Homo sapiens: one gene and its partner. The protein of the gene in region 2 interacts with the protein of the main gene of each other region in a pairwise test. Each region holds a gene or a part of one and is shown on either strand. Other genes may lie near its edges. The genes, in order: GLP1R and KHK.

Evidence for each region.
Region 1: the proteins of KHK (region 2) and GLP1R interact in a protein complementation assay, tested with the Homo sapiens proteins (one large-scale study listed by BioGRID).

Annotation. Positions count from the first base shown.
Region 1 is NC_000006.12:39,079,752-39,083,564, forward strand, and holds part of GLP1R (glucagon-like peptide 1 receptor precursor), read left to right. Parts: intron 1-946; coding exon 947-988; intron 989-3,813.
Region 2 is NC_000002.12:27,089,680-27,093,492, reverse strand, and holds part of KHK (ketohexokinase), read right to left. Parts: intron 1,162-3,813; coding exon 1,045-1,161; intron 1-1,044. UniProt on the Homo sapiens protein: Catalyzes the phosphorylation of the ketose sugar fructose to fructose-1-phosphate.

The DNA of each region.
Region 1 (3,813 bases), on a different chromosome or scaffold from region 2:
GGGACAGACACCAGCCTGCATCATGCAGATGGAAAAGGTGGGAAGACTGGGACCTGGAGGGGTGATCCCTGCCCAAAGTCACCTAGTTGGAGCAGAGCCAGAACTAGTATCCCCAGGTGTCCCAATACCTGGGCCAGTCTTCTCTGTAAGCACATGGGACAAGAAGCCTTCCTGGATGTAGCTCTGGGTACCAGCCTGGCATTGCAGCTGCCATCTACTTGGTGGCGAGCACCCTGCCAGGTGCTTTACATGCATTGTGCATTTACTCCTCACAGAACCCAGGAGATGTGCAGGGTTAGCCTCACTTTACAGAGGAGACTCAGAGGTGTTAAAACCAGAGTTACGGTGTCACAGTTTCAAAGAAAAGAACTGATCCTCTCCACTAGCATTAGATGATGCTAAGGGGGTGTAAAAATACAAAAAAACTGGTCCCTGCCTGCCCCTCAAGAGTGTCATGAGATGCCTGCACACATGTGGGCTCATGTGTGTGTATTTACATACATGTGCAGACATACAGAACACAATTCTGGAGCCCTGGGTCTCCTTCATGAACAGATGGGGCTGGAGTGGGGAATATTCTCCATGATCAGAGTCATTGTACTTCACTGGATCAGGCCTCCTCAAGGAGAGGTTGGATGTAGGATCTCTACAGCTTCTGGGCAGCTTCTGAGCAGGGTCTCCTGGACCCCATGGCACATGCCTGGGAGACCCATGGGGAGAGGCTAGCTGGGGCCTGTAGCCAGGCCTAGTCGCAGAGGTGCAACCCTGGTGTTCCTTCAGAAAGGAAATGAGAGGGAAGCCACTGCCCCATTCCTGGATCTGCCTGGGCCGCTGGATTTGGGGAGGGGGTTGTTGAGGATGGAGTCCCAAAGTGCTTCCGACCAGGGCCAGTCTGCAGGGCACCTCCCTCCTGCTTCCTCCCTCTTGATGTGACTCTTGTTTCCAGGGGCTGATGGTGGCCATATTATACTGCTTTGTCAACAATGAGGTAAGCTCTGAGGAGGGACGGTGGGGACCCTGGTGGGTGGGTACCATCAGCCCGTCTGGAGTAGTACAATGGGGACTCCCATCAATCTTGCCAGCTGAAACCCCCTACTCACCTCACTGAGGCACTAGGGTTGAGAAGCCATCTTGTCCACAGATTTGGTTTTCTGTGCATGGTCTCTCTCACACATGAACACACACACACAAGTACATGTACAGGTATACCCTAATGGCATGTGACCCTAAGGAAGACCCAGACTCATGTTAAGGGGATCCTGAATGACCCTCTTTGCTTGGTGGTAGTGACTGTCACTTACAAAGTGATTCAACACACACATACCCAAGCCACATGCTTGGGGCTTTAATAATCACTATCTCATTTAATTATGACCCCCACATCCCTCAAAAAAAAACCCTGCTAAAATTCTTATTTCATATTCCCATTTTTTATATATACATGAAAACACTGAAGATCAGAAAGAGTCAGGAACCTGCCCTAGGTTTGGAAATAGTGGCACACATCGCTTCTTAGCCTTTTGGCTAAGGTGAAGTGTGGAAATAGTGGCATGGCAGAGCCAGGATTCAAATTAATTCTGCATTAAAGCAGAAAGTACCCCATTCTTCATACACACAGGCAAGAGCCCTGGCTCACTGTGGGGAAGGGGGTGGCTTTCTGGTGCTAGGATGGGAGAAGGGGGTTCTCGCTGGCCCCACACACTCTCCTGAAAATGTCTGCAGGACAGCAGGCCTCCCTCCCATCCCTGAGATGGTCAGCTCCTGGGAGGAGGGCATGGCTGTGTTCATGGGCACCTGGAAAAGGCCCCTTCCACCAAGGTACTCAGCTTTGGAATCCCAGAGCTCAGGGATGTTGGAGTCAGCACATTAATAGGCTTGTCTTTTTCTATGGGTGTGGGGGATGCAGAAAGGACAGTGGGTGGGGACCTGGGTGTTTCAAGGAGCTATGAGATGGCTCAAAGAAGCAATGTGATGTAGCAGAAAAGATGCAAGGATGCAGGCTTTGGCATCTTATTTGGTCTGATCTGGGCCCCATCACTTAATGAGCTGTGTGACTTTGCCTAAGTTACCTGCCCACTCTGAAACTTAGTTTGCTCATTTACAAAGTGGGGATAATCCTGTGAGGATTAAGAAAGTCTGAAAAAGGTGCGAAAGGGGAACAGAGAACAAGTCCTTCCTTCAAGGTGGGATGCTGAAGGCCCATCCTAGCTCCTCACAGGTGCTGCTTGGCATGGAGAAACACACACCATTATCTCCAGATGCTCAGTAAGCAATCACTATTAGATCAGTATTCAGTGATTCCCAGAGACAGGGGCCTAAGGAATTTCAGAGGATGCCGTGCAGAGAAAATGAGGCTGGGTGAAAGGGAAGGGAGGGGAATGTTCCCTTGTCCCTGAGGCCTCCCCCTGCTTCTGCTGAACTGGCTACCTGTGGGAAGTGTGGCCCTCAGATCTCTAAATGGGAGGGAAACCAAGGTCTCTTAAGGGTTTACTGCATATAAGGTGCTCAGAGTGTCTCATTACATCCAATGCTGTGCAGCAGATGGTATCCCCAATTCACAGCTAAGAACGTTAAGCCTCAGCAAAATGAAATGAGTAGCCTAATTCAATAGACAGAAGATGGTAGAGCTAGTGGGCTGTGGCGGGGGCAAGATCCCACTTAATGCCTCAGGGAAGCAGGTGCTGGGGAGGTGAAGGCAGCGCCAGGCAAAGAGTGGCCCATAAATGGGATTCTGGCTGCTCCTGGGACAGGTCTTAGAGGACCCAGCGGCTCCGTTTGGAGGGTAGGGCAGGGAACAGGCTCGTGACCCACAGGAGGCAGTCCTGGTCCTCCTCCACTGCCATATCCTCAAAATGAGTTTCTTTAAAACTGATGCAAACGAGGAAGTGCAAAAACCTAAGCTCTGTGGGTGGCCTCCCCTCCAGGAATGCTCTCAGCCAGCTGGGTGATGCGCTACCCAGCCCTGAGCTCTGCTGCTTTCCATTCCAGCCCAGTGGTGATGGGGGCAAGACAGGGTGGCATGTATCCTGTGTGGGGATGAGGAGCAGAGGCCTGTAGGGAGAGACTGAGGCTCCCTGCTGCCACCTTGTCATCTTGACCCCCCCACGTCCCCGTTTCTCACTTCTCTATCCTCTGACACTGTCACTGCAGCCCTACTAGCAGACACGTGTGCTTGGCTTCCCCCCCGCCATTGTGAACAGTCTCCCCTGACCCCTGGCTCAGCTGCCTCTCCAGATTCCATCCTTCCAAGCCTAGTCATCTCATCACCTCCCTCCTCATGCACCACCTATGGCTGGCCCACCTTTGTAAGGGGATAGTACTTCTTTGCCCTTGGAAAAAAACTTGATCCTGAATCACCAGGGTTGCACCTCTCTGACCAGGCCTGGCTACAGACCCCAGCTAGCATCTCCCCGTGGATCTTCCAGGCTAGTGCCACGGGGTCCAGGAGACCCTGCTCAGAGAACGGGAGAACCTGTCTCCCTTCAGAGCACCAGCCAGTTCCTTTAAACCCACCCTGAGACTCCTCATGCCCTGGCTGCTCCAGGCACAAGGACAGATACATCATTGTCACTGGGCCACAAAAGACACATGTGGCTCTGGGGCTAAGGCCTCTGTCCACAAGAGCTGTTCTGCAGACCCAGGGTTGCCATGGCAATGCCAGGTACTTGTGACCTGAGGAGAAAAGATGGCTTGAATATTGGTTCTGTGTGGCTGCCAAGGCCTGCACCAGCTGCTGGTGGGCGTGAGTGGGGACAGGGAGGGGGAGGCCTGAAGGTGGTTTTGCTGTAGCTTGTGCCTGAGAGCCACAGTGAG
Region 2 (3,813 bases):
ACATGGTAGGTGCTCTCTAAATGTTTGTCGAGCACATGGGGAGAATTCTGAATAAACCACCCATTGGCCTGATTGCTATGTAAAGGAGAGTCGACCATCCTAAGCCAGAGCCACAGTCCTGCCTCTAGCTCAGAGGAAAGGAGCTATTAAAGAGGTTTAATGAGTCACCAGCCCTTGGTTCTGAGCCGTCCTGTCCCATCTCACAGGGCAGATTCTCTCCCTCTATTCTCTTCCTGCCAGTTCATCAAGGCAGGGAGTTTGGCTGTAGCTCAGGTGGTTGGACTCTGCCAGCAGCCCCCTTCAAACCAGGGTTCAAAGGGCTGCCCTTCACAGGCCAGCAACCTGGCAGCCTGCCCCCGTGCCCACAGTGTGCAAAGTGTGGGCCTCACCTCCCGATAAGTGCTTGCTGAGTCGGCAGCGCCAGGGGTCAAAGGGCTCTGAGGTCCCTGCAGCAGCCAACATGGAGGGCGTGCATGAGCCATTTAGGGCTATAGCCCTGACAGCCGGGGAACTGGGAGGTGTGGGTTCTGAGCCCAGCTTTAGCATGTGGCTTCAGGGTGTCCTTGAACAGGGTACTCTCACTGCTTCAGTGAACAACAGGGACATGAGCACCAGCCCTGCCTCTCAACTGGGACAGAAACTGTGGGCCTGGACCTGGGGGAGGATGGGTACCACGTGTCCCTAACTGCCTTCTGCCTCAAGCATGGCCAGGATAAGGGACTTAAGATAAGGCAAAGGCACATCCACCGCAGAGTCTGCAGGAAGCAAGGAAGGAGAAAGGAAGAGGCTGAAGCAGGCTCCAGAAGTGTCCAGGAAACAAGCTGTGGCAAGGAAAGCTTCACAGGGGCAGCATCAGCCCCCGAACCGCAGAGAGGCCACGCCAAGGCAGGGCTGGGCGTCTGGTGCTCCGCCATGCCCCCTCCCCGCGTTTCTGCTGGACACAACCCATTTCTAATCCCCCATCCACCCAGGGTGGATACATCCTTCTTCTCCCACAATGATGCAGGCAGGCCTTCCCCAGTGGGCTCTCCCTCCTGGACTTACTCAGCAACATGGCCAGGAGCCATTGAGCCCATGAAGGCACAGGGGGCTCCGAGCAGGGAGAGAACGGTGCAGGAGTTGGACGCGTTGCCTCCGCGCTGCCATCTCTGGGACAAACACCTGCAAAGCACAGGGAGGGTCCCTGCAGCCCCAGCAGGCTGATCCCAAGCACAGTCTCCTGTATAGGGGCCTACAGAATGTAACAGCTGGGGACTCCTCTCAGAAAGCATCTAGGCCGACGTCTCACTTTGTACCCGGGGCAGCCGAGGCCGGCCAAGGGAAGGAGCTTGGCTGAGAGCGGTGTCTACCTCCCCAGCCCAGGCTAAATTCAAGCTGACAGCAGTTCCTTTCAATATTTCCATCTGTTCCTAGGGCAACAGGAAACCACTCACTTGGGTCCATCACTATTCGAGAGACCCACTAACTCCAGGTCATCTCCTCCTCACCTTTCACCCCAGTCAGAGCTGCTCCAGACGCTGCACCTTTGGCCTCCTCCTTGAGAGCTGGAGCAACTCCAAGGACCTCGGGGACTAAGTGCCTCTTCCCAAAGGTATCACATTTACACCTACCCCTGTGTTAGGAGTGTCTACTTCAATAGAAACTGCAGAGCTATAAAATCAAACGAGTAAGACAGGACAGCAAACCTGGACGTTGGTCGTTTAAGAAGTGGCAGCAGGGAGCACTTCTCCATCTTTACTAAAAACCAACCAAAAGGAAACTAACAAGACACACGTGAAGGGCTTCATTGTCATCAGCAGCAAAAATGATAACTTCCACATAGAGGGTCAACGCACTGATCCCCTCACAGTGTTACTGGAGCCCAAATGAGAAATCATTAATGAATGTTATTACCTTTGAGGTAAGAATGGTGGTGTTATTTCTATTGTGCCAGTTCCAATAATAATAATAATTGTGGCAGTTTACAATAAAAGGAACAGTACCAAAGAACCACGAATTAAGAGAAAAAACCGAACCAGAATTTTTAGGCCAAAGCATATTTGTACGCGAAACTTCAGTTTTGGGAAAAGGGGAGCACGATGTCATTAGAAAAAAAATGATAGTAGGACAGGCACAGTGGCTTATGCCTATAATCCCAGCACTTTGGGAGGCCAAAGCAGGAGGATCACTTGAGCCCAGAAGTTCGAGACCAGCCTGGGCAACCAAAGGGAGCTCTTGTCTCTAAAAAAAAAAAAAAAATTAAAAATTAGCTGGGTATGGTGGTGCATACCCGTGGTCCCAGCTACTCAGGAGGCTGAAGTTGGGGGAGCGTATGAGCCCGGGAGGTTTAGGCTGGGGTGAGCCATGATACTGCACTCCAGCCTGGGTGGCAGAGTGAGATCCTGTCTCAAAAACAACAATAACAACAATGACAAAGGATAGTAATTTTTTTGTTTTTTTGAGACAGAGTCACTCTGTCACCCAGGCTGGAGTGCAATGGCATGATCATGGTTCACTGCAGCCTCAACTTCCCCAGCTCAACTGATCCTCCCACCTTAGTCTCCCAAGTAGCTGGGATTATAGGTGTGCATCACCATGCCCCGCTAATTTAAAAAATTTTTTCGTAGAGATGGCATCTTCTTATGTTGCCCAGGCTGGTCCCGAACTCCTCGGCTCAAGCGATCCTCCTGCCTTGGCCTCCCAAAGTGCTGGGATTATAGGTATGAGCCACTGCACCCAGCTGGTCAAAGATTTTCAAGCTGGCCGGGCGCAGTGGCTCACGCCCATAATCTCAGCACTTTGGGAGGCTGAGGCGGGTGGATCACGAGGTCAGGAGTTCAAGACCAGCCTGGCCAAGATGTTGAAACCCTGTCTCTACTAAAAATACAAAAATGAGCCGGGTGTGGTGGCAGGTGCCTGTAATCCCTGCTACTCGGGAGGCTGAGGCAGGAGAATCTTTTGAACCCGGGAGGCAGAGGTTGCAGTGAGCCAAGATCATGCCACTGCACTCCAGCCTGGGTGACAGAGTAAGACTTTGTCTCCAAAAAAAAAAAAAAAAAAAGAAAGAAAAAAGAAAAAAAAGATTTTCAAGCTGAGCTTTACAGCTTTACAGAAATTTTTACGAAAAGATATGAAAAAAAAGGAGGAATCTCGAGGGATCTGACTTGATCAATAGTTAAGGACAAAGCTGATGTGGGAACCCAATTTCCTGACCCCAAAGCCATTGCTAATTACTCCGTATTTTAAAACTAAAAGTTGTTAGGCCCAAGCATTGAGGTTTCTAAGAAAGGATATAGAATTTTACTCTGGGGAAACCCTTCAAAGTCACACTGATATTTCCTGTGCAGAAATGCTCAGCTAAAGGCTGGGCGCGGTGGCTCACGCCTGTAATCCCAGCACTTTGGGAGGCTGAGGCAGGCGGATCGCCTGACGTCGGGAGTTCGAGACCATCCTGACCAACATGGAGAAACCCCATCTCTACTGAAAGTACAAAATTAGTTGGGTGTGGTGGCACATGCCTGTAATCCCAGCTACTCGGGATGCTGAGGCAGGAGAATTGCTTGAACTCTGGAGGCGGAGGTTGCAGTGAGCCAAGATCGCACCATTGCACTCCAGCCTGGGCAACAAGAGCAAAACTCCAACTCAAAAAATAAAAAAAAGGACACGTCCCAGGGGTCTGGCTGAGCTCCAGGTGGCGGCTCCCAAGAGTCCCCAACTGCCTGTCAAGCACAGAGACCCTAGGACAGGTGGGGCTGAGACACCCAGGAAGGACTGGGTCCCCACTCGGATGTGCTCCTCTGGGAGGCACAACAGTTCAGGAGCCAGGCTGCAGGG